7 linked regions of the Homo sapiens genome follow. The protein of the gene in region 6 purifies or fractionates together with the protein of the main gene of each other region. This does not show direct contact. Each region holds a gene or a part of one and is shown on either strand. Other genes may lie near its edges. The genes, in order: MIGA1, APOOL, LRBA, DIAPH3, ATAD3A, TMEM126A and SASS6.

Evidence for each region.
Region 1: the proteins of TMEM126A (region 6) and MIGA1 purify together in Homo sapiens (affinity purification with mass spectrometry; one large-scale study listed by BioGRID and IntAct). This does not show direct contact.
Region 2: the proteins of TMEM126A (region 6) and APOOL purify together in Homo sapiens (co-immunoprecipitation; one large-scale study listed by IntAct). This does not show direct contact.
Region 3: the proteins of TMEM126A (region 6) and LRBA purify together in Homo sapiens (affinity purification with mass spectrometry; one large-scale study listed by BioGRID and IntAct). This does not show direct contact.
Region 4: the proteins of TMEM126A (region 6) and DIAPH3 purify together in Homo sapiens (affinity purification with mass spectrometry; one large-scale study listed by BioGRID and IntAct). This does not show direct contact.
Region 5: the proteins of TMEM126A (region 6) and ATAD3A purify together in Homo sapiens (tandem affinity purification; one large-scale study listed by IntAct). This does not show direct contact.
Region 7: the proteins of TMEM126A (region 6) and SASS6 purify together in Homo sapiens (affinity purification with mass spectrometry; one large-scale study listed by BioGRID and IntAct). This does not show direct contact.

What each region holds. Positions count from the first base shown.
Region 1 is NC_000001.11:77,786,149-77,789,648, reverse strand, and holds part of MIGA1 (mitoguardin 1), read right to left. Parts: intron 1-3,500. UniProt on the Homo sapiens protein: Regulator of mitochondrial fusion: acts by forming homo- and heterodimers at the mitochondrial outer membrane and facilitating the formation of PLD6/MitoPLD dimers. May act by regulating phospholipid metabolism via PLD6/MitoPLD.
Region 2 is NC_000023.11:85,010,377-85,013,876, reverse strand, and holds part of APOOL (MICOS complex subunit MIC27 precursor), read right to left. Parts: intron 1-3,500. UniProt on the Homo sapiens protein: Component of the MICOS complex, a large protein complex of the mitochondrial inner membrane that plays crucial roles in the maintenance of crista junctions, inner membrane architecture, and formation of contact sites to the outer membrane.
Region 3 is NC_000004.12:150,854,785-150,858,284, forward strand, and holds part of LRBA (lipopolysaccharide-responsive and beige-like anchor protein), read right to left. Parts: intron 1-3,500. UniProt on the Homo sapiens protein: Involved in coupling signal transduction and vesicle trafficking to enable polarized secretion and/or membrane deposition of immune effector molecules. Involved in phagophore growth during mitophagy by regulating ATG9A trafficking to mitochondria.
Region 4 is NC_000013.11:60,157,429-60,160,928, reverse strand, and holds part of DIAPH3 (protein diaphanous homolog 3), read left to right. Parts: intron 1-3,500. UniProt on the Homo sapiens protein: Actin nucleation and elongation factor required for the assembly of F-actin structures, such as actin cables and stress fibers. Required for cytokinesis, stress fiber formation and transcriptional activation of the serum response factor.
Region 5 is NC_000001.11:1,529,162-1,532,173, reverse strand, and holds part of ATAD3A (ATPase family AAA domain-containing protein 3A), read right to left. Parts: intron 2,952-3,012; coding exon 2,843-2,951; intron 1-2,842. UniProt on the Homo sapiens protein: Essential for mitochondrial network organization, mitochondrial metabolism and cell growth at organism and cellular level. May play an important role in mitochondrial protein synthesis. May also participate in mitochondrial DNA replication.
Region 6 is NC_000011.10:85,646,523-85,650,766, forward strand, and holds the start of TMEM126A (transmembrane protein 126A), read left to right. Parts: upstream 1-1,444; 5' UTR 1,445-1,567; intron 1,568-3,726; 5' UTR 3,727-3,733; coding exon 3,734-3,819; intron 3,820-4,244. UniProt on the Homo sapiens protein: Protein required for the cotranslational protein quality control in the inner membrane of the mitochondria.
Region 7 is NC_000001.11:100,105,431-100,108,930, forward strand, and holds part of SASS6 (spindle assembly abnormal protein 6 homolog), read right to left. Parts: intron 2,575-3,500; coding exon 2,380-2,574; intron 2,288-2,379; coding exon 2,198-2,287; intron 2,124-2,197; coding exon 1,944-2,123; intron 1,564-1,943; coding exon 1,482-1,563; intron 474-1,481; coding exon 337-473; intron 1-336.

The sequences.
Region 1 (3,500 bases), on a different chromosome or scaffold from region 6:
ATGGTTTAAAACATCAAATACAATTAAATCCATAAGATCAAAACGATTTTTAAAAAACTTTCATTGATTGGCTGTGAAGGATACTACAGAACCATCTTGTTATTTTAAAATCTGGTTAAAAAAAGAGAAAGAGAGAGAAAGCCAAACACGGTGGCTCACACCCATTATCCTAGCACTTTGGGAGGCCAATACGGGAGGATCGCTTGAATCCAGGAGTTTGAGACCAGCCTGGGCAAGATGGTAAAACCCTGTCTCTACAAAAAATAAAAAAAATTAGCTGGGTGTGTTGGTACACTCCTGTAGTACAAGCTACTTGGGAGGCTAAGGTGGAAGGATCACCTGAGCCTGGGAGGATTCAGCTGCAGTGAGCCATGACTTACTGCCGGGATTTGCAGCCCGGGCAACAAAGCAAGACCTCGTCTCAAAGAAAAAAAAAAAAAAAAAAAAGCAACCGCCCCCCACAATTCCATTTAGATTATTATCCAAAAGAATACAATACTTAGGAATTAACCAAAGATGTGAAAGACTTCTACAATTTAAAAATATATATATATACACGTTGCTGAAAGAAATTAAAGAAAACATGAATAAACAGAAACACATCCCATGTTCATAGATTAGAAGACTTAACATTGTTAAGATGTCAATACTACCCAAAGCAATCTACAGATTCAATGCAGTCTCTATCAAAATCCCAATGATTTTTTGGCAGAAATAGAAAAACCCATCCTAAATGTCATACGGAATCTCAAGGGACTTAGAATAGCCAAAATAAACTTGAAAAAGAAGAACAAAGCTGGAGGACTCACATTTCCTAATTTCAAAACTCACTATAAAGCGACAGTAATCAAAACAGTAAGGTACTGGCATCAAGGGCACAGAAATAAAACCTCACATATATCATCAAATGATTTTCCACAGGGGTGCAAGACCATTCAGTCGGAAATGGAGAGTTTTTTCAACAAATGGTATAGGGAAAACTGGACCCTTACCTAATAATACATACAAAAATTAACTCAAAATGGATCAAAGACCTAAATATAAGTCCTAAAACCCTAAGAAGCTTCACAACATCGGATTTGGCAATGACTTCTTAAATATGACAATGAAGACACAGGCAACAAAAAAAAGATACAAACAAGACTTGATGAAAATTTTAAAATTTTGTGCATCAAAAGACACCATCAACAGAATAAAAAAGTAATTCACAGGGTTGGGCACCGTGGTTCATGCCTGTAATCCCAGCACTTTGGAGGCCAAGGTGGGTGGATCGCTTAAGGTCAGGAGTTCGAGACCAGCCTAGCCAACATAGTGAAACCCCGTCTCTACTAAAAATACAAAAATTAGGCCAGGTACACTGGCTCATGCCTATAATCCCAGCACTTTGGGAGGCCAAGGCAGGCGGATCACTTGACGTCAGGAGTTCAAGACCAGCCTGGCCAACATGGTGAAACCCCATCTCTATTAAAAATACAAAAATTAGCCAGGCATGCTGGCACATGCCTATAATCCCAGCTACTTGGGAAGCTGAGGCAGAAGAATTGCTTGAACCCAGGAGGCGGAGGTTGCAGTGAGCGGAGGTTGCAGTGAGCCGAGATTGCGCCATTGCACTCTAACCTGGGTGAAGAAGCGAGACTCTGTCTAAAAAAAAGAAAAAATACAAAAATTAGCCAGGTGTGGTGGCAGGCACCTGTAATACCAGCTACTCGGGAGGCTGAGGCAGGAGAATTGCTTGAACCCAGGAGGCAGAGGTTGCAGTGAGCCAAGACTGCACCACTACACTCCAGCTTGGGTGACAGAGTGAGACTCCATCTCAAAAAAAAAAAAAAAGAAAAGAAAAGTAATTCACAGAATTGGAGAAATATATGGAAATCATATAACTAACAAGGAATTAATATCCAGACTATACAGAGAACTAAAACTCCACGAGAACAAAACAATTTCAAAAATGGGCAAAGGGGCCAGGCACAAGTGGCTCACACCTGTAATCCCAACACTTTGGGAGGCGGAGGCGGGCAGATCACCTGAGGTCAGGAGTTCCAGACGAGCCTGGCCAGCATGGCAAAACCCTGACTCTATTAAAAATACAAAAATTAGCCAGGTATGGTGGCAGGCGCCTGTAATCTCAGCTACTCAGGAGGCTAAGGCAGGGAGAATTGCTTGAACCCAGGAGGCCGAGGCTGCAGTGAGCAGTGAGATTGCACCACTGCATTCCAGCCCATGCAACAGAGTGAGATTCTGTCTTACAAAAAAAAAAAAAAAGGGCAAAGGACTAAAATATACATTTCTTCAAAGGATACATATAAATGGTCAATAAGCACATGAGAAGATGCTCAACATCATCAGGGAAATACAAATCAAAACCAGAAGGATATACTACCTTTGATATGGTTTGGCTGTGTCCCCACCCAAATCTCATCTTGAATTCCCATGTGTTGTGAGAGGGACCCAGTGGCAGGTAATTGAATCATGGGGACAAGTCCTTCCCTTGCTGTTCTCATGACAGCGCATAAGTCTCACGAGATCTGATGGTTTGATAAGGGGAAACCCATTTCATTTGGCTCTCACTCTCTCTTGCGGCTGCCATGTGAGACGTGCCTTTCACCTTCCGCCATGATTGTGAGGCCTCCCCAGCTACATGGAACTGTAAGTCCAATAAAGCTTTCTTTTGTAAATTGCCCAGTCTCAGGTATGTCTTTATCAGCAGCATGAAAATGGACTAATACAGTAAATTGGTACCAGTAGAGTGGGGTGCTGCTGAAAAGATACCCAAAAATGTGGATGTGACTTTGGAACGGGATAACAGGCAGAGGTTCAAATAGTTTGGAGGGCTCAGAAGAAGAGAGGAAAATGTGGGAAAGTTTGGAACTTCCTAGAGTCTTGTTGAATGGCTTTGCTCAAAATGCTGATAGTGATATGAATAATAAAGTGAGGCTGAGGTGGTCTCAGATGGAGATGAGGAACTCATTGGGAACTGGCACAAAGGTGACTCTTACTATATTTTAGCAAAGAGACTGGTGGCATTTTGCCCCTGACCTAGAAATCTGTGAAACATTGAACTTGAGAGAGATGATTTAGGGTATCTAGCAGAAGAAACCTCTAAGCAGCAAAGCATTCAAGAGGTGACTTGGGTGCTGTTAAAGGCATTCAGTTTTATAAGGGATGCAGAGCACAAAAGTTTGGAAAATTTGCAACCTGACAATGCCATAGAAAAGAAAATTCCATTTTCTGAGAAGTTCAAGCAGGCTGCAGAAATTTGCATAAGTAAAGAGAAGCCAAATGTTAATCCCCAAGATAATGGGGAAAATGTCTCCAGGGCATGTCAGAGGTCTTCACGGCAGCCCCTCCCATCACCAGCCAGGAGGCCTAGGAGGAAAAAGTGGTTTCAGGGGCCAGGCCCAGTGTCCCCGTGCTGTGTGCAGCCTAGGGACTTGGTGCCCTGCATCCCAGCCACTCTAGCCATGGTTGAAAGGGGCCACCATAGAGCTTGGGCTGTGGCT
Region 2 (3,500 bases), on a different chromosome or scaffold from region 6:
AGTCAACAAAGAAACAATGGATTTAAACTACATCCTAGAACAAATGGACTTAGATATTTATAGAACTTATTACCCCAAAACTGCAGAATATACATTCTTTTCATCAGGACATGGAACATTCTCCAAGACAGACCACATGATAGGACACAAAACACTTCTGAATAAATTTAAGAAAATCAAAATCATATTAAGCATCTTTTCAGACCACTGTAGAATAAAACTGAAATAACTCCAAAGGGAACCCTCAAAACTATACAAATACATGTAAATTAAATAATCTACTAATGAATGATCTTTGGGCCAACAATGAAATTAAGATGGAAATTTAAAAAGTCTTTGACCTGAATAACAGTAACACAACTTATCAAAACCTCTGGGATACAGCAAAAGTAGTGCTAAGAGGAAAGTTCATGGTATTAAATGCCTACATCAAGAAGTGTGAAAGAGCCCAAATATTGACAATCAAATATCACACCTCTAGGAACTGGAGAAACAAGGTCAAACTAAACCTAAAGCTAGAAGAAAAGAAATAACAAAATCAGAGCAGGACCAAATAAAATTGAAACAAAAAAATACAAGAGATAAATAAAACAAGGATCTGTTTATTTGAAACGATTAAGAAAACTGATTGACCATTAGAGAGATTAAAGAAGAGAGAATATCCAAATCAGCTCACGTAGAAATGAAAAGGGAGATATTACAACTGATACCATAGAAATGCAAAAGATCATTGAAGGCTACTAAGAACACCTTTGTGCACACAAACTAGAAAACCTAGCATAGATGGATACATTCCCAGAAATACACAATCCTCCTAGATTAAATAAGGAAGAAACAGAAACTGAACAGACCAATAGCGAAATCGAAACAGTAATTTAAAAATTGCCAACAAAAACAGATTCCAGGACCAGATGGATTCACAGCTAAGCTGTATCAGACACTCAAAGAAGAATTGGTACCAATCCTACTGAAACTATTACAAAAAATAAAGAAAGAGGGAGTCCTCCCTAGATCATTCTATGAAGCCAGTATTACCCAAATACCAAAACCAGGAAAGGACATACAAAAAAAAGAAAACTACAGACCAATATCCCTGATGAACACAGATGCAAAAATCCTCAACAAAATACTAGCTAACTGAATCCAAACAGCATATCAAAAAGATGAGCAAGTGGGTTTCATACCAGGGAGGCAGGGATGGTTTAACATACACAGGTCAATAAACGTGATACATCACATAAACGGAATTAAAACTAAAAATCATAAGATCATAAGATCACCTCAACAGAAGCAGAAAAAGCATTTGAAAAACTCCTGGCTCCCTTCATGATAAAAACCTTCTGCAAAACTGGCATAGAAGGGACAGATCTCAAGGTAATAAAAGCCATTTATGACAAACCCACAGCCAATACCATACTAAATGGGGAAAAACTGAAAGCATTCCAATGAGACCTGAAACAACACAAGGATAACCACTGTCACCACTTCTATTCAACATGATACTGGAAGTCCTAGCCAAAGAAATCAGACAAGAGAAAGAAATAAAGGGCACCCAAATCAGAAAAGAGGAAGTCAAACCACTGCTGTTCACCAATGATATGATAGTATACCTAGAAAAGTCTAAGAACTCATCCAAAAAGCTCCTAGATCTAACAAATGATTCAGTAAAGTCTCAGGTTACAAAATCAATGTACACAAATCAGTAGGACTGCTATACACCAACAACGATCAAGCTGAGAATCAAATCAATAATTCAATCCCTTTTACGACAGCTGCAAAACAGAAACAAAAAAATAAACAAACAAAAAAACTTCAGGAGGTGGAAGATCTCTACAAGAAAACTATAAAACACTACTGAAAGAAATTATAGATGACACAAACAAATGGAATCATATCCCATGCTCATGGATGGGTACAATCAATATTGTGAAAATGACCATACTGCCAAAAGTGATCTACGGATTCAATACAATTCACATCAAAATATCATCATCATTCTCCACAGAACTAGAAGAAAACAATCCTTAAATTCATATGGAACCAAAAAAGAGCCCACATAGCTGAAGTAATACTAAGCAAAAAGAACAAATCTGAAGGCATCGTATTACCCAACTTCAAACTATACTACAAACTAGGCTACAGTTACCAAAACATGGTACTGGTATAAAAGTAGGCACGTAGACCAATGGAACACAGTAGAGAACCAAGAAATAAAGCCAAATACTTACAGCCAATTGATCTTAGGCAAAGCAAATAAAAACAGAGTGGGAAAAGCACACACACCCTGTTCAACAAATCATGTTGGAATAACTGGCAAGCCACATGTAGAAGAATTAAACTGGATCCTTATCTCTCACCTTATACAAAAATCAACTCAACATGGATCAAAGACTTAAATCTAAGACCTGAAACCATAAAAATTCCAGAAGATAACATCAGAAAAACTCTTCTAGACATTGGCTTAGGCAAAGAGTAGTTCATGACCAAGAACCCAAAAGCAAATTCAACAAAAACAAAAATAAATAGATGGGACTTAATTAAACTAAAAAGTTTCTACACAGCAAACAAAATAGCAGAGAAAACAGACAACCAACAGAGTGGGAGAAAATACTCATAAACTATGCATCTGACAAAGGACTAATATCCAGTATCTACAAGGAACTCAAACAAATCAAGAAAAGAACAAATAATTTGCATCAAAAAGTAGGTGAAGGTCATGAATAGACAATTCTCAAAATATGCAAATGTCCAACAAACATATGAAAAAATGCTTAACATCACTAATTATCTGGGAAATGGAAATTAAAACCACAATACGATACCATCTCACTCCTGCAAGAATGGCCATAATTAAAAATAAAAAAATAATAGATGTTGGTGTGGATGTGGTGAAAAGGGAACACTTTTACACTGCTGGTGAGAATGTAAGCTAGTACAACCACTATGGAAAACAGTATGGAGATTCATTAAAGAACTAAAAGTAGAACTACTATTTGATCCAGCAACCCCACTACTGGGTATTTACCCAAAGAAAAAAAGTCATTATATAAAAAAGTCACTTGCACATGCATGTTTACAGCAGCACAATTTACAATTGTGAAAATATGTAACCAACCCAAATGCCCATCAACCAATGAGTGGATCAAGAAAATGTGGTATGTATACAACATGGAATAGTACTCAGACATAAAAAGGAAGAAAATAATGGCATTTGCAGCAACCCAGATGAAGTTGGAGAACATTATTCCAAGTGAAGTAACTCAGGTATTGAAAACCAACTATCATGTTTTCACTAATAAGTGGGGGCTAAGCTATCAGGATGCAAAGGCATAAAATTAAGATAATGCACTTTGGGGACTTGGGAATACTGGGAGGGGGTAAGGGACAAAATACTGCACACTGGAGACAGTGTAAACTGCTCAGGTGACAGGTGCACCAAAATCTCAGAAATCACCACTAAAGAACTCACCCATTTAACCTAAAACCACCTGTTCCTGAAA
Region 3 (3,500 bases), on a different chromosome or scaffold from region 6:
ATGTATGATGAATAACAATAAAGCAATAAACTGAGAACTAAAGAAAATGAGGTCAAAGATGTGGCCACGAGCTAGATTATGATTGTAGAACATTATAGACTGTATTAAAGACTGTATTTTATTCTGAGAGAGCCATTTGAGAATTAAGAGTGTAGGGAAGACAATCTGATTTCCCTTTTTAAAAGATCAGTGGCTGGGCACGGTGGCTCACGCCTGTAATCCCAGCACTTTAGGAGTCCAAGGTGGGCAGATCACCTGAGGTCAGGAGTTTGAGATCAGCCTGGCCAACATGGTGAAACATTGTCTCTACTAAAAACACAAACATTAGCTGGGCATGGTGGCACACACCTGTAATCCCAGCTACTCAGGAAGCTGAGGCAGGAAAATTGCTTGAACCCAACCCAGGAGGCAGAGGTTGCAGTGAGCCAAAATAGCACCACTGCACTCCACCCTGGGTGACAGAGTGAGACTCTGTCTCCAAAAAAATAAGACTGGTTAGCCTACTTTTTGGAAAACTGACTTTAGAGAGAGCATTTCTCCACCAACAAACAATTATCATTGTCAAAAGAAAGCAAGTTACATATTACCAACCTCACAGTCATTTTGAAAATAGGCCATTTATTTCTACAATAGCCTGTGTTATAGAATGACTTTAGTTTTCAATAATCATTTGCTTTGATTTTATTTATATTAAAGGTTTTTAGAATTTGTATTATACAATGGATCAATAAACATGAGTATATGTAATTTATATGTACAGGTTAAGAAACAATTTTTTTTAATCTCACATGCCTACCACCCATGTCAAGAAGTAAAACGTTACCAGTACCTCACAATTCCCCTATGTGCCCTGCCCAAACTGTACTCCCTATTTCTCCACTACAATCAGAAAAAAATCACTATCCTGGTATTTCTATCGTTCACTGTTTATAAATAGTTTTACCTGGAGGTCAGAGCTTTGGGAGATAATTTTAAAAGATAGTTTTACTATCTATATACTAAACATACCCATTATGTTTAGTTTAAAAAACTAAGTCTAACACAAACCTAGCCAATTGTATTTTAAAGAGCAATACTGCCACACCTGAGCTCCCAAGAAAAGACAAGATACACAGAATCTGTGAGTTGCAGCAGGGCTTCAGCTTATTTGAGAGAATATGTAAAGCCATTTCTGGGAAGTCTTATAGGCAAGTCATTAGGAAATACAGGAAATATAGAGGTCAAGAGAACTGGAGAACCTATCAGAGGCAGTGTGTGCCAGGTAGAGTGTATTGGCATGAAATACTTTATATTTTTCAATTCTAAGCTCACCATGGTGAACCTCTACCCTAAGAAGTAGGTCGAAGCACAGCATGTCTTTGTGGAGTGAAGTGAGAATCTTCAGGTGATTCACATTAGACAGGAAAACAGGAATTTAATCAGCACATGATGAAGGCAAGCAAGCTAAGTACTCCTAATAAGAATACAGGTCCACCTCTCCTGAGTGAAACTGCTCCAGTCCAGATGGACTGTCATCTGCCTACTACATAGCTGCTATTGGGATCTCCCTTTCTACAGTCCTGGAGATCCCCTTCATCTCTCTTCTATGTTGTCTCTTGTTTCTTATATTTCATTTCTTCCTCTTTGTATTATTCTCTCCTTTTGTGCAATATCCTGCAGTGCCTTCTTAAGAAAGGATGTATATAAATGTTTTGAGATCTCAAATCCTGAAAAGGTATTTATTCTCGCTTCATACTTGATTAATAGTCAGAGTATAAAACCACAGATAGAAAAGCATTTACCTTCAGAATCTGAAATGCTTTTAAAATTCTAAAGTCATTTGGTTTTTAAATTTGCCCTTAATTTAATTCATCCAATGGTCTAAAAGCTAAATTGCAATTGAACAACTATCAGTATTATCTTTTTGGATGCTGTTTTCCTTAAGATATTTGTGACTTTAAAACTGATAATTTCCAATTAATTGCCAGATATTGTTCTAAATTACCCAGCTAAAAGACTAGTCATTAATCTTCACAATCATTTGATAGCTAATCTATAGCTGTTTGTAATGTTTGGAAAGCACTTCTATAAACTACTAGTTAAAGATACTTGTGAGCTAATGACTATAACATTTCTTTTGCCATTATTTTCAACTTAATTGGCACTCAAATTTACTAATTAGTAGATAAAAGATAAACACAATACATCCAGATGTTAATATTATCTTTTTAATCTATACATTAAAACCGTATAACCTGTAAAATTTAGACATTTTAAACTGTTAGGCAATGTTTAGCAACTGACTTTGTTTTTAAGCAAAGGCATCTTTTTCAGTGTCTGTTTTCATATGAAAATACCAGCTAAATATGATGTTAACTTCTGATTAAGTTACCAACCTTTGATAAATAAGATATATCTTTAAAAACAGGTGGATCTTCCCATATGTATTATCAATGAGCATAAGTCAAAATGATTGCCACCACATTAATGAGATCTTTTATAAAGACTCTGATGTATAACAATGGTATAGGTAACAGATATAATGGTAAAATCAAGCATTACTGACATAATTAAGAGCAATTCTAAAGGTTGGTAGTACAATCCCCATTTATAAAGATAGGAAGAACACTGACAAAAGAATATTGCAGCAAATAACTTCTAATCTTTTCATTTTTAAAACAGTCATTTTGATCAATTTTAATTTCTTAAAAACAGTCTAAACAGATGCTTTCATGCAAATCTAGCGTATAAACTGGTACAAATTTTTAGAGGGCAATTTAGCAATATCTACTAAAAACTTTTTAAAACATGTACAGACTCCTTCCTCTGGAAATTCCACTTACAGGAATTTATCCTACAAAATAAGGGTTACAGTATTGAACCAGGCTCATCATTGGTCAATGATAAGGAACAGATAAAGTATGATTATAATATAAATCAATAGATTTTTTAAATCTCTCTTCCATCAATTTTTCTAAATACAATTTTGGAGAATGCCAGAATATAAAAAGAAAACTTGAATCATTTACACGGTCACTCCTTCCTAGAATTTTAAGTGGTCTGATAACATTCAAATGTTATATCAAAGCTGAATCTTATGCTCTTTACTTCTCCATAATGTCATATAATATGCAGGCATTAAAATTCATGTAAGAAGCATATCATTAAATAATACTCTAAAATAGTAAAAATACGATCACATTTTGTTAGCAAATAATTATATGTTATGTATAGATTCATGTATAGAAGAGAAGACTAAAAGGTCTCGCACTAAAATGTTAATAAGTTATACATAGGTGTTTGGATAATGGATAATTTTTGTTTTCTGTGTGTATGCATTTCTGCTGGGTTCAAGATTTCCTGTAATGAAAACTTATTATTATTTTAAATTTTTTAAAGTAATAAATGCTATTTGGTTTCAAAATGTTAAAGCTAAGAATACTTTTAGCCAGGAACAAAGGTACATGCCTGCAGTCCCAGCTACTGGAGAGGCTGAAGGGAGAGGATCACTTGAGCCAAGG
Region 4 (3,500 bases), on a different chromosome or scaffold from region 6:
CACTTGTGAGTTGGGTAAAAGAGTTTGTAGCTTAGATATCTCTTCCCATAGATAAGTATAAATAGTAGAAATTAGTCTATTGTAATTGTATGATACTTTGGCTGTGCTACGAATCAATTGACTTTGGGATGCTTGTGAATTAACCAACTTGGTCTCATTTGAAAATATCTTAAGCCGTGAGCATTGAGATGGTAGGGATAGCTACTGGGGCATAGAAGAGAGATGGAGGAGGCTGAGAGGACAGGGCAAGTATCTGGGTGGAGACTTTGTGAAGGCAGATAAAATTCCGTAGGAATTAAACTTGGAACCTGCCCTAGGCCACACTCAATACCTGGACCTGAGTCCTATATCCTTTGTAGAACAGAACAGTTGTCCTACAGATTGTGGAAAGCCTTTCAGTAATACCTGTTTCTCATTACTCTTGGCAACACACAGGTAGTGGTGGCAGAGCAGGACATGTGGCTTCTAGAAGTGTCCATCTCTAGGATGTAGGTCAGTCCATTCAAAGGGAGCCTGTAAATTGGTGGTCCAAGTTGATGAAGGAGTTCTTTTTAATTAGGAGAGTCCTCTAAAAGTTCTCACAGACTTCAGTGTAAATCGTCTAATCGTTTCCATCAAATAGATTGTTAATTATTGATTGATTATGTCATTGTAGTACCTTCAGTGTTGGTTTTGAGATTTTTCTTTTCTTTTTTTTCTTTTTTTGAGACGGAGTCTTGCTCTGTCGCCCAGGCTGGAGTGCAGAGGCGTGATCTCGGCTCACTGCAAGCTCCGCCTCTCGGGTTCATGCCATTCTCCTGCCTCAGCCTCCCGAGTAGTTGGGACTACAGGTGCCCACCGCAACGCCCGGCTAATTTTTTGTATTTTTAGTGGAGACGGGGTTAACCGTGTTAACCAGGATGGTCTCGAACTCCTGACCTCGTGATCCGCCCACCTCGGCCTCCCAAAGTGCTGGGATTACAGGCGTGAGCCACCGCGCCTGGCCGGTTTTGAGATTTTTTCACCTTGTCCTTTAATTTCTGTATATTTACCATGTTTGGGCATTGATGGTAATACTAGTTAACCTTTCTGAGTGAGCCAAGCACTGTTCTAGGTGCGTTGTAATTATCAACTCCTTTAATTCTTAGAACAACCTTGTGAGGTAGGTAGTATTATTAATCTTGTTTGCCATAGGAGGAAACCAAGGTACACAGAGATTAAGCTGCCTAAAATCACACAGCTGCCAGTTCATGAGGCTGAGATTTGAATCTAGGCAAGCTGGCTTCAGAGTATACATTCTTTCTTTCTTTCTTTTTTTTTTTTTGTGAGACAAAGTCTCATTCTGTTGCCCAGACAGGAGTGCAGTGGCACAATCTTGGCTCACTGCAACCTCTACCTCCTGGGCTCAAGCAGTTCTCCTGCCTCAGCCTTCTAGTAACTGGGATTACAGGCACGTGTCACTACGCCCGGCTAATTTTGTATTTTTAGTAGAGATGAGGCTTCACCATGTTGGCCAGGCAGGTCTTGAACTCCTGACCTCAAGTGATCCACCCGCTTCGGCCTCCCAAAGTGCTGGGATTACAGGCGTGAGCCATCGCACCTGGCCTAGAATACACATTCTTAATCACTGTCCTGAATTCTCTCCCATAGCTGTTGGGAACTTTAATCTTTACTGCTTCTTTTCTCATCCAGGAACCATTAGCAATAATTAGTGATGCCTTTAATTAATATATAATATGAATATAGAATTGATTTTCTGATTATAGGCAGGCTGCGAGGTGAGAAGATATACAAGGTTGGAGAATTTTTGTTGATTGTACACGTAGTAGGAATTTGAGTACAGATGAAATCCCAGTAAGCTTAATGAGATTAGTGCATGTTTGCCAATTACTTTGGGTTATTTGGAAGCAGGTGTAGTAGGCCGAACAATGATCTTCTGAAAGGTAGACACTCCTTAATCCCTGGAACCTGTGAATGTTACCTTATATGGCAAAAAATGACTTTACAGGTTATTTGGTTTTTTTTTTTTTTTTTTTTTTTTTTAAGAGGGGCCAGGCAGGAGCAACAATTAAACCCAATGTATGACTGTGCTGTGGTGTAACTTCTGACAGCAGGATGTCTGAAAGAGATACTGCTCTTTGCTCTTCCAGCCCCTGAGAGACAGGGTATCTCATAGCCTCCAACCTCCTGCTGGGAGGATGAGGAACCATCCTTCAGTGCTTGCCTGCCTGAGTTTGGGCTGCCACTCTAGAACTCCCTGCTCAGCTTCCCAGCCAGTCCAGATTGTGGAATGTGGCTGCTTCTCCCCTTTTAGCTGGGGCAACCACAGGTGGTTCAAGCAACCTCTGCCTGGGCCTGTTGAACTCCACCAGGAGGAGGCAGCCCCAAAGTTCCACACATCTGGACATCTGGGGCCTTGGACAGTGATATGGTCAGCACATGGAGATTGAATCTATGTCTGAGGTGGATACACATTAACTAAGCTCACAAGCTTAATGAATAAGCTGTAACCCAACTCATTAATGTATACCAGCCAGTGTGTTGCAGCCAAATCCTTCCAGGCATGCAGGCCCCAGAACAAAGAGGATTAACAAAGAGCAGATGAAAACAATTCTAGCCAGTAAGCTAAAGGAGAAATCTGCTGGGGAATTCTGAGAAAGATGTCTTTGCTCTGTAAAAAGGAACTAACAAAAACTTTGCATCCAGTATTGGCTGAGATCTCATTGGACCACAGACCTCTCACATGACAAAATTATAAAAAGCAACTATTAAAACACTGGAGAGTGATCAAAAGACATGGCTATTGGAGACAATACTTGGAAGAAGGGACTAGCACTGGATAAGTTTGTCATTTTTTGTAGCTTTTTGCATAAGGGAAGCCCCTAATCAGGGTCATGTGGGGTGGTTAAAACTAGAATATAAGCCCACAGTTGTACTGGCATAAAAAACCAGAGGGCAGAGTTCTGGTGACCATATAGCTGATAAATGAGGAGAAAATCCTGGAGAGGAGAAGGAGCCACAAATGGGTAGCCCCAAATTCTGTGTGTAGAGTCCTCAAATTTCTGAACCCTACATGTATGGGACAGACTCCAAGCAGCACAGGTAGGGCTAACATATCTGAACTAAGATTTCAGGTCCCATCCAGCGGATGGGACAGTATGTGCAGTTTGAGAGTTCAGCCAAGTTAACTGCCTGCTAAAACAAACACAAAAAGCAATACTTCTCAGAAGAATAGAAGGAATTCAGAGTCCCTACACCATACATTCACAATGTTCAGGATACAGTGCAAAGGTATTTGACATTAGGAAAAAACAGGAAAATGTGACCCATACAAACAAGAAAAAGGAATCAATGGAGACCAGTCTCAAGATAACTCAGTTGTAAGCATTAATAGACAAGGATTTTAAAGCAGTTGTATAACCATATTTAAGAATATAAATGAAATATGCTCACAATGAATGAAATGATAGGAAACCTCTGTAGAGAAACAGAAACTATAAAAAGACCACAGTGGAAATTCT
Region 5 (3,012 bases), on a different chromosome or scaffold from region 6:
TAATAAAAAAATTATACACCCTGACCAAGCAGGATTTATTCCTGGAATGCAAGGATAGTTCAACGTACAAAAATCAATCAATGTTCCACATAAAAAATGTTCAACATACAAAAATCAATCAATATTAGCCGAGTGGAGGAAGGAAACTACATGACCCTCTCATCTGATGCAGGAAAAGCATTCGACCAAATTCAAAACCCTTTTATGAGAAAAGAATTCAAGATGCCGTGCATGGTGGCTCACACCTGTAATCCCAGCACTTTGGGAGGACAAAGGGGGCAGATCACCTGAACTCAAGGAGATCCACTGCCTCAGCCTCCCAAAGTGCTGTGGTTACAGGTGTGAGCCACCGTGCCCAGCCCAAATTATTATTTTATTTTTTATTTTTTTATTTTTGAGACAGAGTCTTGCTCTGTCGCCCAGGCTGGAGTGCAGTGGTGCGATCTCGGCTCACTGCAAGCTCTGCCTCCCGGGTTCATGCCATTCTCCTGCCTCAGCCTCCCAAGTAGCTGGGACTACAGGCACCCGCCACCACATCTGGCTAATTTTTTTTTTGTATTTTTTATTAGAGATGGGGTTCCACCGTGTTAGCCAGGATGGTCTTGATTTCCTGACTTCATGATCCGCCCATCTCGGCCTCCCAAAGTGCTGGGATTACAGGCATGAGCCACCGCGCCCGTCCAGCCCCAGTTATTATTATTTTTAGTTTTCGTTTTCGTTTTTTGGGATGGAGTCTCACTGTGTTGCCAGGCTGGAGTGCAGTGGTGCAATCTCGGCTCTTTGCAACCTCCGCCTCCCGGGTTCAAGTGATTCTCCTGCCTCATTCTCCCAAGTAGCTGGGATTACAGGCATGCGCCACCACACCCAGCTAATTTTTGTATTTTTAGTAGAGATGGGGTTTCACCATTTGGCCAGATGGTCTCCATCTCTTGACCTCGTGATCTGCCCGCCTTGGCCTCCCAAAGTGCTAGGATTACAGGTGTGAGCCACTGCACCTGGCCTATTACTATTTTTTTAAGATGGAGTCTCACGCTATTGCTCAGGCTGGAGGGCAGTGGCACCATCTCAGCTCACCGCATCCTCCGCCTCCTGGATTCAAGAGATTCTCCTGGCTCAGCCTCCTGAGTAGCTGGGACTACAGGCATACACCACAAATGTGCCGGGGTAATTTTTGTATTTTTAGTGGAGGTGAGATTGGCCTTGTTGGCCAGGCTGCTCTCAAACTCCTGACCTCAGGTGTATGATATTCTCACTTCAGCCTCCCAACGTGCTGGGATTACAGGAGTGAGCCACCGCACTCGTTCCAAATTATTCTTAGTTTTTTTTTTTTTTTTTTTTTTTTTTTGAGACGGAGTCTCGCTCTGTCGCCCAGGCTGGAGTGCAGTGGCGGGATCTCGGCTCACTGCAAGCTCCGCCTCCCGGGTTCATGCCATTCTCCTGCCTCAGCCTCCCAAGTAGCTGGGACTACAGGCGCCCGCCACTACGCCCGGCTAATTTTTTGTATTTTTAGTAGAGACGGGGTTTCACCGTTTTAGCCGGGATGGTCTCGATCTCCTGACCTCGTGATCCGCCCGCCTCGGCCTCCCAAAGTGCTGGGATTACAGGCGTGAGCCACCGCGCCCGGCCATTATTCTTAGTTTTTAAGACAGGGTCTTGCTCTGTAATCCAGGCTGGAGTGCAGTGGCAATCACAGCTCACTGCAGCCTCCACCTCCTGGACTCAAGTGATCCTCCCACCTCAGCCTCCCAAGCAGCTGGCATTACAGGCATGTGCCACCAGGTCCAGCTAATTTTTTCATTTTTTGTAGAGATGGGGTCTTGCCTTGCTTTCCAGGCTGGTCCTAAACCCCTGGCTTCAAATAATCTAACTTGGCCTCCCCAAATGCTGGGAATACAAGCGTCAGCCACCACCATACCCGGCCTCTGCTTTCTTAGTTGTGGAAACAGACCTGGTTCCAAGTGGGGATGGCCTGGAACAGAGACCTCAGCTGACCCACAAGGACGGGGTTTGAGATCTGGGGCTCTTTGTCACAGTGGCATAACCCAGCCTGTACTGACTAATACAGCCCCCTGTGAACCCCGGCTCCAACATTCAAATCAAGGTACTCGGCTGCTTCATTAAGCTGTCACACGTTCATTCAAAAGCACTGCTAGATTGAGGAACCAGGTTGTTACACAGACTCTGCGGACCCCAGAGGTGGTGATGCCTGTGCGTGGCCAGGGTGCCTTCTGCCCCACCAACCTGGTTTTGCTTTTCCAGCAACCCCCAAAGACCAAAGCTTTCTGGATGGCCACGCCCACACTCCTGTGAGTCCTGGCTCCTCAGCCCTGGAGCAGCCACGGAGCTGCAGGAGGGGTGTCCCCGAAGAACAACTGGCTGTGGGACAACCAGAGGCCACTCCCACCCATGTGTCAAGCAGGACCAAGCCCACAGACTTGGTCCAGAAAACACAATGTCCCTCCACCCCGAACCCCCAACTCACATGGGGCCTGTCCTAACGACCATTTACACAGGGAGGTGCCTATTGGCCAAGGTGAGAGTCAGAAGCCTCCAGCCCCACCTGGCAAAGCTCGGGCTACGGCGATGCCAGACTGGCCTCCAGAGAGCCCCGGGTGACTGTCAGCCACCGACATGGCTCCACCCTCCTGAGGGCACGAGCAGGTGCGCGATGCCTCGTGGAGTGGCCTGACTGGGGCAGGGGGCCCTGTGTCACCTCTGTGCACTGAAAACCCCTCAACAGAAGCTCCCGCGTGACACCGGTGCTGGGACAGGCCTGGCGCAACTGAGCATCTCCACAGCAGCTGGGGTCCCGTCTGGGTGGACGTGCCGGAGCCTGACTCACCTGCCAGGACACGGCCAGCTGAGCGATCTCCCGGCCCGACATGCCCTCCGTCAGCCGAGCGACCTCCGAGCACTTCCTCCCGTAGTCAAACTGGGCCAGCTTCAGGCGCCTGGGGAAGGAGTTCCCAAGTGGGCCGGCCAAGGCAGCAGCTCCCACAACACGAGGTGGAG
Region 6 (4,244 bases):
TAGCCAGGCGTGGTGGCAGGAGCCTGTAGTCCCAGCTACTTGGGAGGCTGAGGCAGGAGAATGCTGTGAACCCAGGAGGCGGGGCTTGCAGTGAGCCGAAATCACACCACTACACTCCAGCCTGGGTGACAGAACGAGACTCAGTCTCAAAAACAAAAAAAAAAATCAGCTGATCAGCTGGGCGTGGTGGCACACGCCTGTAATCCCAGCTACTCTGGAGGCTGAAGCAGGAGAATCGCTTGAACCTGGAAGGCAGAAGTTGCAATGAGCTGAGATCAGGCCATTGCACTCCAGCCTGGCCGACGAGAGCAAAACTCTGTCTAAAAAATAAAAAATAAAAATAAAAAAAAGACTAGGAATTTTCCTTCTTGTACACCTTCGTGAAAATAAGTCTTTCTATTTGTGCAAGTTTAGAAACTGCAATTACAGACTTCTTGGCACTATGGAGCCTAATGGTCAAGCAACCCTGCAATGGAGAGACAGTATAAAAATTATCTGGACAATGCAACACTTTATCACTTGTTCAGAAATTTGAGAGGATGAGAATAATTAAGATTTCTGATAATGTGTTATGATCATGTATTTATTGCTACAGTTAGTTATATATTTTTTGGCACAATGTTTACCTGCTAATCTTAATGGAGTTAAGATAAAATTCAATTGTAGGCATTTTTCCCTTCTATTGGGTTAATTAGTCCAAGCGAACTGAGCAAAGGTTGCAGGGAGCCCCAGCATGGCTGAGGAAGACCTGGTGAGGCATCCACTGGCTGCTGGGAGGAGAGCATTAGAGGTACCTTCTGAACAGCACTGTCCAATAGAAATATAATGCAAGCCACATATATAATTCTAAATTTTCTAGTATTTATACTTAAAAAGCAAGAAGAAATAAGATGACTTTCACCCAACACTGCTTCCAAATAAGCAGTACTCTGGAGAACACGAGAAATCCTCAGAAAAATAAGCTGCAGCTCTGAGGTGCTGATTATGGTAGGGCAATCAATACAGATCAAAACATGGCACAGGGAGCTTAAGTTCCTAGGGAGAGTAGAAAATCGATAGAGCCAAGAAATAGCTCACCTTTGACTTATTTTTAACCTGAGTAGCTATCATATGCCAAGAGCTGTGCAGTTTTCATTTACCCCATGCCAAGAACGTAAGTAGGCTCTACTGACCAGGAAGTTAAGTAATATGCCCGAGGTACGTTTTCAATGGAAGAGGCTGACTGAGGGTCACCCAACTTATATCTCGAAATTTCACAATTTCTACAAGTTCTGTCCTGGGAGGCAAGAGTAGGTGAAACGAGCACACTCTACGCCAGGCAAACAAACCTCAACGCTTAGCCTCCCGGCACCTCCTAGGGCCGGAAGCTTCTCAGCCCAAAGCCGCTGCTGGCTGCAACCTCCGTCCCGCAGTCCAATTAGCAGCCGCGACCCGGCGCCCGCCCACGCCGCGTCACGAGTCAGCCAAAGATGGCTGCGCCCAGGTAATTTGAGCAAAGGCCACAGTGAACTCCGGCGTGGCTGAGGAAGGAGGAGGCACCCACAGGCTGCTGGGAGGAGAGCATAAGGTACTGGTATTCCGGGGGAGGGGGTGAAGTAAATGTCCCGGTGTCAGGAGAAGCACGACGCGGTGACACGCTAGCTACCAGCAGCGCTGCGCGTAAATGAGAGCAAGTAGAAGTGTAGTTAGCTCTTCCTGCTGTCTTTTCACTTTGCACTCTAGAAGGAAAGACCTTATATTTAAATTAACTCAGTAGAAAGGAGAAATGCCTGAGATTGAATTTAATCCCAGGTTTACTGTCAATTTACAAGGTGACCACGGCCAAATTTGATTTTCAGAGGTCCCACTTTACTTCTCTTTCAGATAGGCCCCACACTGCCTATCTCTCAGAGCTCTTCCAAGAATGACATGAGATAGGTAACACAAAAATCTTTCGAAATATTTGTAGTTTTTACAGGCGGCGTTGTCTTTGATAGATATTTGTTATTAATATCGGAGACAAAATGCCCACAGGGGCTGCCCAGTCAGCACTTATACTGAATTGAGTGACTTAATTGCCCTCAGTACAATATATACATACTAAATTTGATTATATATTTCACCACCCCATACACAAAATCATTCAGAGCTCCTGTACAGCAGAGATTGTGTCTTATCATCTTATCGTAGCCAAGGCCCTCAAAAATTTGACTACCAGAAACCTAGACATAAATTTCTAAGGCTGCTTTGTACTTATTAGGTTAGCTTTAAGTCTAGAGATATGGAATGTCAAGGTAATCAACATTTCCAAATGACCTCTTATCGATATAAAACAGGTAGCAATAAATATTTAAACGAGTGCCTGTAATGTTGTAGGAAATGAGAAAATCTGGTTTCATAAAAGCATGTTTTCCTTTGTTGTTATCCCTGAACTGTTTTTTTTTTTTTTTTTGTAGACCGAGTCTCGCTCTCACCCAGGCTGGAGTGCAGTGGCGAGATCTCGGCACACTGCAACCTCCACCTCCCAGGTTCAAGCGATTCTCCTGCCTCAGCCTCCCGAGTAGCTGGGATTACAGGCAGCTGCCGCCGTGCCTGGCTAATTTTTGTATTTTTAAAAGACAGGGAGTTTCACCATGTTGGCCAGGCTGGTCTCGAACTCCTGACCTCAGGTGATCCGTCTGCCTTGGCCTCCCAAGGTGCTGGGATTACAGGCGTGAGCCACTGCATCCAGCCTTTGTTTTTCTTAACTGTTACCCTGAAACCTGAGCCAAATCTTCATCATTCACCATTCCCTTCACATTTTCACCCTAACTAGTGCAGACATCAACAAACTACTGGCATGTAGGCCATATGCAGCCTATAGCTTGCCTTGGTACAGCCACCCAGCTAAGAATGATTTTTATGTTTTTATAGTTTTTTTAAAAACAAATATTCAACAAAGGCTGTATGTTACCTGCAAAGCCTACCACATTTACATCTGGCCCTTTAAAGTTTGCTGAGCCCTGATCTCAGGTATACCTAGAAATGAAATTGCTAGCTATGTGTGTCTTCTATCTGCTAAATAATACCAAATTCTTTCCCAAAGTGACTGTACAGTTTGGGTAAAGCTACCCCACAGAATGTACACAGAATGTAGTTTTAGCTACCCCGCATTCTTGCCAATAATTGGAATTGTCAGATTTTGATTTTAGCTAACCTATGGGTACCTATTGGTATCTCACTGTGGGTTGTTCCCCCAGTTATAATGAAGGTGAGCATATTTTCATGTTTATTGGCCATTTAACTTTCCTTTTTGTGAAGTGCCTGTTCAAATATTTTGTCAGTTTTTCCGTAGGGCTGCTTACCTTTTTCATGTTGATATGTAGTTCCATGTATGTTCTGGGTACTAACTACTCTTTTGTCAGTTCTATTGCATTTTCTCCCCCACTAGCTTATCTTTATGGTATATGTTGATAACCATAGGTTCTTAACTTCAATACTGTTAGTTTTATAAGTCTTTTATGTTTAGTGCTATTTGTGAATTGTTTAGGAAATACTTTCAAGGATTATGAAGATATTCTGTATTTCCTAAAAGCTTTATGTGTTGCTTTTCATGTTCTGGTTTCTGTTTCACTTAGATTTTTTTTTAATAATATGTATGCAATGATTTTTTTCAGATTAGCTCTACAGTATTATTTTTAGTCTTCAGAAGGTTTTTAAAATTCTTTGTATAAATTCTTGAGAAATGATATCTTCATGTTTTTTAAGGCTCAAAATGGAAAATCATAAATCCAATAATAAGGAAAACATAACAATTGTTGATATATCCAGAAAAATTAACCAGCTTCCAGAAGCAGAAAGGTAAGATCCCTTCTTAATTTAAAAACACCTTTTATCAGGTGGATTTTCACCATTGATTCATTATCTCAAGTTTATCTGGTTTGAGTATAAACAACATGGAATGTGAGAAGGAAATTGCCCTTTTCTTGCCTGGATGAGAGCGTTTAACCATTTTGCTCAACATCACATAGCTAATTGTGGAAGGTGAGGCTGGAACTCATGTCTTTGGACATACCTAATTGTATAATGTTTTGAGTTTTTCCATTAGGCTTGGAGTATAGTAAAATGTAAACATTTACAGACCCATTTAAATAACAAAACTTTAACTTTTAAAATGTCTTTTTTTTCCCAGTTCATTCTGTCAGTATGCTTACCAGTCTAAGAGTACCATAGAACACACATAGCAAGATAGAGAATGTCAGAGAAATAGGATCATGGCTAAAGAT
Region 7 (3,500 bases), on a different chromosome or scaffold from region 6:
GCAGGAGAATGGTGTGAACCCGGGAGGCGGAGCTTGCAGTGAGCCGAGATCGCGCCACTGCACTCCAGCCTGAGCGACAGAGCGAGACTCCATCTCAAAAAAAAAACAAAACAAAACAAAAAAAAGAAATGTGCTCTTGAAACTCAGCCTCTGTTCAGAGCAAGTGTGCCTTTGTTCCACTTCCAGGGGCAACTTAAACTCTATTTCAGTGCAATTGTAGGACTCCACTTTGTATTGGTATCAGCACCTTAAATCATGGAAACTTCCTAACAATCTGGAAATACTTTTGTTTCAGGAAATTCACTAAGATCACTCACATCTTGTTTTAAATCTTACCACATTCAGGTTAGGAGAAATTCCACTTCTGATTGTGTTGCTGCTGGAATGTGCAGGCGGAGTAGTAGAAGGTCCCAATACATCTTGCTTTCTCACTAGCTGATTTTCATTTAGTTCTTTATTTAACCACGTGATTACTTAAATAAAAGAACAAGAAGCAAGGTAAAGAATATTGACTGTTTATTTTTCTAATCATCTTAAACATTTAAAAATTATATTAAGATTTTTAAATTATAAGTTTTTACAACTACCTGACATCACAGGAGAGCAATATAGGTTCACCTAAATTTTTGTCATTAAAGTTTCTTATTTTAGAAGCTGCCACATAGGACTCCTTATTGTATTACTTTCCGAAGCACATATTTCTGCTAGTCAAGCAACTCTTTGAAAGATTTCACTTCTAGAATATCTTACAGTTTACTTAAAATTCACAATCTTATGTATGATACCCAGTAGTATAAACTGAGAAAATGTTAGTTAAAATCTTATTTTTATGTTTTGTTTTCAAACAATTCATATTGTTATTATTAGGTAAACACAGCTATTAAAAAAAGGAATAATGAAGAATTTAAACAATAAATTACAGTCAACATTTTCAACAGTTTTAATTGTGGGTTACTGACCTATGGGATATGGTTTTCTTTATAAAGATGATAACTCTTTTACTGGGCAGATGATATAAATTTATTATAGAAAAGGCATTAAGACAGTATATTTAAAGCAGAAATTACTTATATATTGGCCAATGTCTACTTTTATGAATTCGAATAAAATTTTCAGGTTAAGAATAAAACTACAGCCGAGCACGATGGCTAACACCTGTAAACCTAAACGCAGCAATCTGGGAGGCCAAGGCGGGTGGATCACTTGAGCTCAGGAGTTCAAGACCAGCCTGGGCAACATGATAAAATCTCGTCTCTACAAAAAAAACCCACAAAATTAGCTGAGTGTGGTGGTGCACACCTTAGTCCCAGCTACTTGGGGGGCTGAGGCGGGAGGATAACTTGAACCAAAGTGGTGGAGGCTGCAGTGAGCTGAGATCATGCCACTGCACTCCAGCCTCGGTGACAGAGTGAGACCGTGTCTCAAAAAAATAAAAGAATAAAACTACAAACCTCATTTACATTAACACGTAACATACTTACACTTTTCATTATTTTTTAGAAGTTGTTTGCTTTCTTCAAGTTTTTTAACTGTAGCTTCTAATTGTTCTTGTAATTTGCATACCTGAAATATATCAATCATCACAATAAGTCAAGCAAAATAAAGGTTAAATAAAAACTGAAGAATGTATTATTATTAACTAAATAATTACATAAATGGTTACTACTACTATTATTAAATGAGAATAAAGGAATTAGCTCAATTATGTAATAAAATATTTACATGTGTATACAAACATAGACATACATGAGCAATCAAGGTATCTGAATCATGATAACTAACTTTCCAAACTGAAACAGGTTATTACCATCTACTCAATCTAGTCATGTTCTTTTGTTAAAAAAAAAAACAAGACCAAAGCCATTTGTTAATGTAACAAAGCATAAATTTTTAAAACGAGGAAAAAATTTAGTTACAACATAAAAATTTAAAATATTAACTACCTCTTGCTCTTTAATTCGAAGAGACTGTCCAACATCTTGTAATTCCTTTTGTTCCTTTTGTAATTTTTCCTCCTTCTCAGCCAAGAGTTTTTCTTGCTGAATAGTAACTGTATTCTTCAATTTCAACTTACCCATTAAAGTTTTCAGATCCCCTTGTAACTTCTTGATAATTTCATTTGCCTATAAAAGAGCTTCATATGTATATTTCTATGTAATTTAATGAAATACTAGTCTATAAAATTTTTAAAACAAACCTTCAGAAGTTCTGCAGATAATGATTTTATTGTAGCTTCAAGCTTTCCTAGTTGTACTTGATTTTTCTCACCATTTTCTTCTAAAACCACCTGATATATTTTTTAAAAACATGAATAATTAGGGCATTTGTGTTTACTTATAAATATGATTATCAATTTCTGAGAAAAATTTAAAAGTAGACCTTTTGTTCCTGGATTGTATCAAATGCCTCTTTTGTTCTTAAAACAAGCTGGTCCTTATCCTTGATTTCCTGTTCTAAAACTGCCACTTTTGTTTGTAGCTGATTAACGTGCTTTTCTTTCTCGTGGCATTCAACATCTAGTGTAGAATTCTCTCTTCGCAAAGAGAGGACTTCTTGCTTAGTCCGCTGTAGCTCCTAGAATGGGAAAAGAAAGAAATTAAGCATTATGAAAAAAGGAAGCTGCCTCATCTGGTTATTTATAATTAAGATGTCTAACATATTAAAAAAAAGTCTTTAATAATTTTAAAGTTTTAGTACAGATTTTTTTTTAAAAGCATAAATGTCTTTCTAATGGTATAGTAGCATATATCTGGAATATAATTGTAAAATATTCTACTATCTGATTCAATCATATCAAGGGAAAATAATTCTAATTTATGAATAAATTACAGTAACTTTAAAACTTTTAACAATAATTTTCTGATGTCTCCACAACTGATTCCAAGGGTAACCACGGGTGAGAGCCGCCACAATGTAGACTTAACATTTTTCTTTGTTGCTTACATGTACAGATTGTTTTTTAAAGGTTGATACTCTGCAGTTTATAATCTACCTTCTTCACGTATTACAAATATCTTTCTATGTCAATAAATGTTAACATTTCCAGATCTCTCTGTTCACTCTTTCAAGCAAAATAAACAATAATTGTTCATTAAAAATAGATTTTTAAAAAATCTACAATAGATCTCTTCCCAATCAGCTAATATCAACCCAAATGCTGCTGGTATATGAAAGCCCAGGATACAATATTCCTAGATAGTTTTAGTTCTTAACCAAAGTTTCCAAAAATAATTATACAGTATTGTGACTATAGTGGTTTTAGGAGCACAAACTTTAGTATCAAACAAAATTCAAATCCTGGCTCTTCTACTGTGTGATCTTGGTAATTACTGAAACTCCCTAAATTAAATCTCAGTTCCCTCATTTGTAAAACAGAAATAACAAATACTTAATAAATTATTTCATTTAACCTTCATAAAAATCCTTACGTAAATTGCCTAGCATTTTGGCTGGCACACAGTAAAACTCAATAAATGGTAGCAATTGTTATTTTTAGGACA